Linked DNA regions of Homo sapiens. The protein of the gene in region 1 purifies or fractionates together with the protein of each later gene. This does not show direct contact. Each region holds a gene or a part of one and is shown in the gene's direction. Other genes may lie near its edges.

Region 1 (3,500 bases):
CGGGAGCCCAGGGGACCCATTGTGGGAGGTTCCATTTGAGCAGATACCTGAAGAGGTTGAGTGGTACTGGATGGGGAACCATGAAGGTGGAAGGAAGCGTGAGGCACAGTCCTGAGAATAAAGCCACATGTTGGAAGGAGAAGAACGCCAGTGTGACGGGGGCAGAGGGGTGGGGTTGGGCTGTGGATAGGAGATAAAGTTGCAGAGGTAGGCAGGCCAGATCAAGTAAGGCCTTGGTAAGGGGTTGAGTTTTATTTGGGGCAATGGAGGGCTCCGAGCTTGGGGGGTGACCTGTGATGGAATGCACCCAGCACACCGGGGGCCTCGCTTGGACAGTGCTCTTTAAAACTGTGACATGAGGAGACACTGAAGACGGGTGTCATTGCCATTACCAGTCTGTCTCCCCTCTAGGCTGAACTCCTCCTGGGCAACTTTGTTATCTGTCTCCCCTCTAGGCTGAACTCCTCCTGGGCAACTTTGTTATGACCCTGGTCAGCCCAACTTAGCCTGGAGTAGGAGTTTTGCAAATCTTTATCAGGAAAACAAAGAGAAGAAGAGGAAGAAAGAAAGGAAAAGAGGGTGGATAGAAAAGGGGAAAGAGGGGAAGAAAAGAGAGGAGGGAGGAAGGCAGAGAAGAAAGAAGAGAGAAAAGACATGAATCACAGAGCACCAGCACGCATCAGAGGAAATAATGACGTTCTCTTCAATGCTTCTCTCTTATGGCTTGGGCTCGGCTAAACTGAAAGATTTCAGGTTGAGGTCCCTTCTCTGAGCCACAGCCTGGAGCCCCCTGCACTGCGTACATGCAGAAACATCCAGAGAGAGGACCAGCCTGTGGTCCCTCATGCACTGGGGCTGGGGGTGACCCATCTTGTCCCCAGCAGTCCCCAGCAGGGAGGGTCTTCCCAGAGCAGGCTGCCCAGTGAGGGCTGAGCTCCCTCTGGCAGGAGGCATTCAAGCCACATGGAGGTAGGACTTATACCCTTTTGCACAACCTCAAAGGTTCCTCCCCACTCTGAATCTGTTAGCAGAACAATGGAGGAGTTGAGACTTGAACTGGATCAAAGAAAAACAATGTGCTGTGTTGGCTGGGTTGCAGCTCAGATATTTGGATCAGTGAATGCAAGGTACCCCAGTTGATGGAGGGGAGCTTGCTCTGCCAGCCTTGGTCCTTTAGATTCAAGAGGCAGAAAGCACATTTGGGGGCACCTCCTTTGTACCTGGCACTTCACTAGGCTGTTTCTGTGATCTTCCAGACAATCCTCTGTGTGAGATGGAGGCTGTTGTCCCTGTGAGGCAGATGGGGAAAGCAAGGTTCAGGGCGTGGCGCCACTGAGTCCTGGGAGCTTGGTTCCTAGGGCATTTTCTAGCTTGGGGATGGGGGGGTGCAACATTATTGGTGAACTTTCACCCCATCCATCGGTCAACCCCAGATGCTGCAGATACACCACCGCTACCACCGGAGTGAGCTATCAGCTGCCACTGACTTCCCAAACTTCCCTGATGGCCAGAGTCCCCTGGAGTGCTGATTAAAATGTGGAAGTCATTGTTATGCAGTCAAGGCCACATGCTTGGGGAAGCCAGGTTCAAGTGTGCATTGAGACCCTGGGCTGCTGCTTATGTGTGGAGCATGTTGAGGGGCTGTGACACTGTCCTGGCAGGTTTGTTGTGAGGATTAAATAAGGTAATGGCTTCAGTGCCACCTGAGCCTTTACTGGCATTTATTTATCAGGCCTTCCATAGATGTGCTTCTCTGTTTCTTCCCGCTCATAGTCCCTTAAGAGTATGTGAACAATCCCAGTTGAATTATGCCTTCTTCCCAACAGAAACAAAGAAGAGAAAGTGGAATATTTCTGTTAAAAAAAAAAATCCCTGCAGATGCTGTAGGTACAGGGGTCAGAGAGGTGTGGCCCTGACCCATGCCCCTAGAGAGCCCAGTGTCCCCCACACACACTTCCCGGGCTTGGGAGCCCTGCTCCTCTCCAGACGTTCCCCAGCAGAAGGACACTTCGTTGTCAGGAAATGAAGCAGTGGAAAGGAGAAAGCCAGCCTGGCCTCTCTGGTGTCCTGTTAGTGTGCGGCATCCTAGGGAGGCACCAGGAAAGACTCCCCACTCCTCAGAAGCCTAGAGCGGACTTGGCCATTTGAGAACGCTCACTGATATATAATAATGTTTAGGCGATTCAAACCTGACACAATACTCATGCTGCTGCCAAGGTTGGGGCAGCTTCCTGGGACTGCTGACATGGCTGTGCTGCCCTGGTGCCCTGGGGAACGCCTGCTTCCACCAGGCAAATAGGAAGGAGTGGCCGGCAGCCCCAGGGAAGCCGGAGCTGGAGCATTCTTGAACCAAGTTGCAGATGTAATGGTTGAGACGTCCCGGTCTTTACCTGGACCTTGGAGATTTAGTCAGGTTGCCTTGTGTAATCCTGATGCTGCTCTTTTCTTGTTAAAACAATCTTAAAAGTCCTCAGGCAGAACAAAGAGCAGATGCCTAAATGGCTGTACTTTTGATCCTGGTTTCCCTTAGGAGGTGCTCAAAAAGCATGAGCGTTTATTTATTTCGTCTCTTTTGGAAGAATGTTTGGGTTTAATGTGAAGTGTATTTAATGATTGCATTTAAAAACTGATTGCATAAATAGAGGGCTGTGCAAATACAGGAGGGGCTGCCTTGATGCAGGGCTTGGACCCAACCCAAGCCATCCTGAGCACTTAATGAAGGTGTCAGTGACATTTGTTCATTTGTGCATGCAGAGGCAGTAGAGGGCAGGGGGAGCAAACAGGAGCTTTGGAGTCCAGCAGGCCCGAATGCCTCCCTGTCTGCCCCTATTTCTTTGCTGTTGCTTTTTGTTGTTGTTGTTGTTTGCTACGGGATATTGACAATCTCAACCTTAATTCCTCACCTGTGCACTGAGGATTGCAAAGGGCGCCCTCATCAGTTTCATGTGAGGATTACACGAAAGGAGGGAAGCAAAGCGGGGGAGGAGGATGGTCCTGAAAGTGTGGATCGGTGGGCGTTTGCTCCTCCAGCCCTGGGTGGGAGACCCTCAGGAGCACGAGCGAGAACTTCACAGCCTGTGGTCTCTCCTTCCCTCACAGAAGTGGTCGACCAGAAGGCCGTGTATTTCTTCAACCTGACTTCCATGCAAGACTCGGAAATGATCCTTACGGCCACTTTCCACTTCTACTCAGAGCCGCCTCGGTGGCCTCGAGCGCTCGAGGTGCTATGCAAGCCGCGGGCCAAGAACGCTTCAGGCCGCCCGCTGCCCCTGGGCCCGCCCACACGCCAGCACCTGCTCTTCCGCAGCCTCTCGCAGAACACGGCCACACAGGGGCTACTCCGCGGGGCCATGGCCCTGGCGCCCCCACCGCGCGGCCTGTGGCAGGCCAAGGACATCTCCCCCATCGTCAAGGCGGCCCGCCGGGATGGCGAGCTGCTCCTCTCCGCCCAGCTGGATTCTGAGGAGAGGGACCCGGGGGTGCCCCGGCCCAGCCCCTAT
Region 2 (3,500 bases), on another chromosome or scaffold:
CAAGGAAAGATTTGAGAGAGTTGGTGGAAAGGGTTATAGAACTTTTCTGGTTTGGGATACAACTTTTGTTTATTACTTATTTATTGGTAACAATTTAATATATTTAATGTTGTTATGTCTAAACATTACAAACAAGAAATCTCCTGTTTTGCTAATGCCTGTCGTCTTCTTTCCTCCTGGTGAACTTTCCTATTCAGCCATATCGATCTTTTCACTCACCCCCAGATAGCATGCTTATTCTTACTTCTAAAAATATAGTCATGTCATGGCTGCTTTTCTGGTCACTGCTACCCTTGTGTCAACTTGTATCAGCAGTATTCCAAGGAAGCAAATGGCACGTTGAAATGAGGATAATTCAAGGAAGGTATATTTACAAAGATATTAGTAATAAAGGTGTTGGACTTCAATAAGCAAACCACAGCATAATGCAGTTATCTGGAGCTAGCAGCATTAGGAGAGGGAGAGGCATCAGAATCAGAAGAAGGGTCTTGGAGAGCAGCCTACCTGGAAAGAAATAGCCTTCTATTGAGGAACACAGCCAATCCAAGGTGACCTAGAGGTAGAGAACCAGGACGATGAATATTCTGATCTCACTCTGCTACCTCCCTCTGATCTGTCATGGTTCTTCATTGGCTGACCTCAACCAGAAGGCAGAGGACAGGGGAGCCTAGTGATGTAATCCCTCTGACAGAGAGCAGAATGGAAAGGAGGATACAGTGAGCCTAGAGGGCAAATGGATGATGTCTGGCATGCTGCCCATCCTTTGGGAACCAGTGGACATCTTACCTCTCCATGAAGCTTTTGCTTACCTTGCTAGCCCAAAAGAGCTCTTCAGTATCTTTCAGGATTTAGTCATTGACTGTTGCCTTTTATTTTACCTTGTGTACCATTGCGTTGTTTAAATGCTGTTACTTTTTAACTTCCAAATGTTTGCCTTATCCACTCAACTCAGTTTTAAACTGCAAGTATTAAGAATTTAAAATTTTTCCTGATACTTTGCCTTGCGCCTTGCACATAACAATTTGTTTGTTACACACACACACATATTTGTATTTCTGCATTAGTGGTCTAAATAAAATTTCTGTGATTTTAAGGAATCAAGAAAGTTGAAGGATTGGCCTTAAGGTAACTTCCCCTCTGTGTATACTTTATTATGATCTGTTTAGCCTTTTTATTATGAAAAATGTTAAACATTTACATAAGTAGAAAGAACAGTGAATTCCTAGGTACTCATCATGCAACTTCAATTACAGAATTAGTCATTCTTTCTTTATTCTCATCCTATCCACCCCACCACTGCAGTATCACCAAGGTAATTGTTTTAAAGCTGTGCTTACACTGATCTCTTGGAGGCCAAGGAGAGTATGCAGATTGTCATAGTTTATGTTGTCATCACTATTGAGCCACTGACATTGTATGTATACTCCTTATTTCATCTCTTTTGTTCAGATTTGCTTCACTTGACACACAATCTCATATATATGTATTTCTGCATTAGTGGTCTAAGTAACATTTTTGTGAAAATTGAAAGAGTTGGCCTTACAGTAACTTCCCCTCTGTGTATACTTTATTATCAGCTGTTTATCTAACCTTTTTTTTTTTTTTTTAACAGAGACTTGTTTTTATGAGATTAACCTGTGCATTGATTTTGCATGGGGACCCAAACTGGTTTTTCAGGTGTTTCCTGACGTATTTCATGTTGTCATATCTGTTTTATAGCTGCCATTACTGTACTTATCCCCAAATGTATGCAGCCTTTAAAATGAGATACTTACATAAATGTTCAGGGAAAATTGGAGCATCTGCTGCAAATTTCCATTAGCTCTTAATGCCTGAGCCGACACAGCTTTAAAAATCTGAATGTTTTGTCAGATTCTTTTGTATTAGTCTTTTTCTTGAGTTAAGATGAACTCCTCCTTCTCTTCATTTCACTTTCTTTTTAAGGTACACACTGAAATATCCACAGGGAGCAATTTGCACTGGTCTGTGTCACTTCTCTTATTAAGTAGAAGAAAGATAACATGAGTCACCTTTGTAACCCTACGGGTGTGCAAAGTCTCTTGAGCAAACATTCACTTGTTAACCTCCAGATGATCAGTCAGCCTACATGGGTGTTACATTTCATGGGGAAGGAGACCTTAGATCTACAGCAGAGAGCCGTATCGTGTTCAGGAGGATTCCTATTATTAAACTTATTATTTAATCAATTTGCATTTAACCATTGAACTGACAGACATAAGGCCTTAAGTTAATCACCTTAAAGGGAAATCAGTAGTCACATGAAGAGCCACAGCTCCTCTTGGCCTAAAAATGTGGAATTCTAAGACAATAAAGTGACTTAGGAAGTCACAAAAGGGTTTTTCTAAGGAAACAAATTGTTCCCCCATTGGTCTCCTCTTTAATGACTTACAGCTGAGCGTAGAGATCTAAAAAGACTTTTGTTCCTTCTACCTGAGAAAGATGAAACAGAACTAGTCTTTTGAGAGATTGTTTAAGGGAGAGTGGCTGAAGGACCACGGGCCTTTGGGAGCCAGGGTAGCTGTCATTGTTGGAATGGCCATGGAATGCATGTGAGGGCAGTTAGAGACAGCTAGTAGCCAAGAGAAAAAAAGCTGATGCCATAGGGCAGAGTATTATTAGGAAGAAGGGAAGAAATAGTACTGAAGAAGCCAAGAGTAAAGTGTTTGCATTTTTGCCTGATGTGGACCTAGATCTAGAAAGCTGGCTTGCCAGAAGGAGTAGAAAATCAGGAAGAAAAGCCATAGCTGCTGCCCAGAGTTGTGGGCGACCTGGCACTGAAGCTGGTCAGCTGTGTGTGTGTGTGTGTGTGTGTGTGTGTGTGTGTGTGTGTGTGTGTGTGTGGCGTGGGGGGGCGGGGCCTGTTTTTGTGTTTGTGTATATGTGTGTGTGTGTGGCGTGGGGGCGGGCGGGGCCTGGCAGGACATTAGGTATCATCTTGGCAGGGGCTGAAGGGCCCTTATATGTTGATTCAACCATGCGGGGAAGAACAGCCATGATTCACCACCTAAAATAAGAATTCAGAGCCTGGGACTGAAGTTTAAGAATAGTGTGGTCTTTGGTCTATAGCTAGTGCCACTAAAAATTTTGTTGGCATTTATTGAATGTTGTGAGTAAGATTCCAGAATGCACCTAAAATGTGGAAAAACAAAACTTGTTGCTGGAAAAAAGCCTAAACTTAAAAATGTGATCCAAGTCAACAAATTAATCTCACTTTAAGCCAAAGGAAATGTTTGAAATGAAAGTACTGCCAGGAAATAGAAAGAGTATTCTAGACTTAGGCAGAAAGATTTATGGGTATTTTATGTTTAGTGACTTCCTCAGCCATAATGCATTATTAGAACGAACAAATAACCTCTTCTAAGGACTCTGTTCATATCTGGAACTGAAACACAACTGGGATATCAATTTTTTCCTTCTCTGATGTCCCTTACCCTTTCAGGGAAAAAAAAAAAAACCATATATGTGGATATGAGTAATAG

Evidence for each region. Proteins that work in one complex are often made in the same cells at the same time.
Region 2: the proteins of GDF10 (region 1) and ZNF507 purify together in Homo sapiens (affinity purification with mass spectrometry; 2 studies listed by BioGRID and IntAct, with this or other methods). This does not show direct contact.

What each region holds. Positions count from the first base shown.
Region 1 is NC_000010.11:47,306,697-47,310,196, forward strand, and holds part of GDF10 (growth/differentiation factor 10 preproprotein), read left to right. Parts: intron 1-3,099; coding exon 3,100-3,500. UniProt on the Homo sapiens protein: Growth factor involved in osteogenesis and adipogenesis. Plays an inhibitory role in the process of osteoblast differentiation via SMAD2/3 pathway. Plays an inhibitory role in the process of adipogenesis.
Region 2 is NC_000019.10:32,348,610-32,352,109, forward strand, and holds part of ZNF507 (zinc finger protein 507), read left to right. Parts: intron 1-504; exon of another isoform or gene 505-744; intron 745-3,500. UniProt on the Homo sapiens protein: May be involved in transcriptional regulation.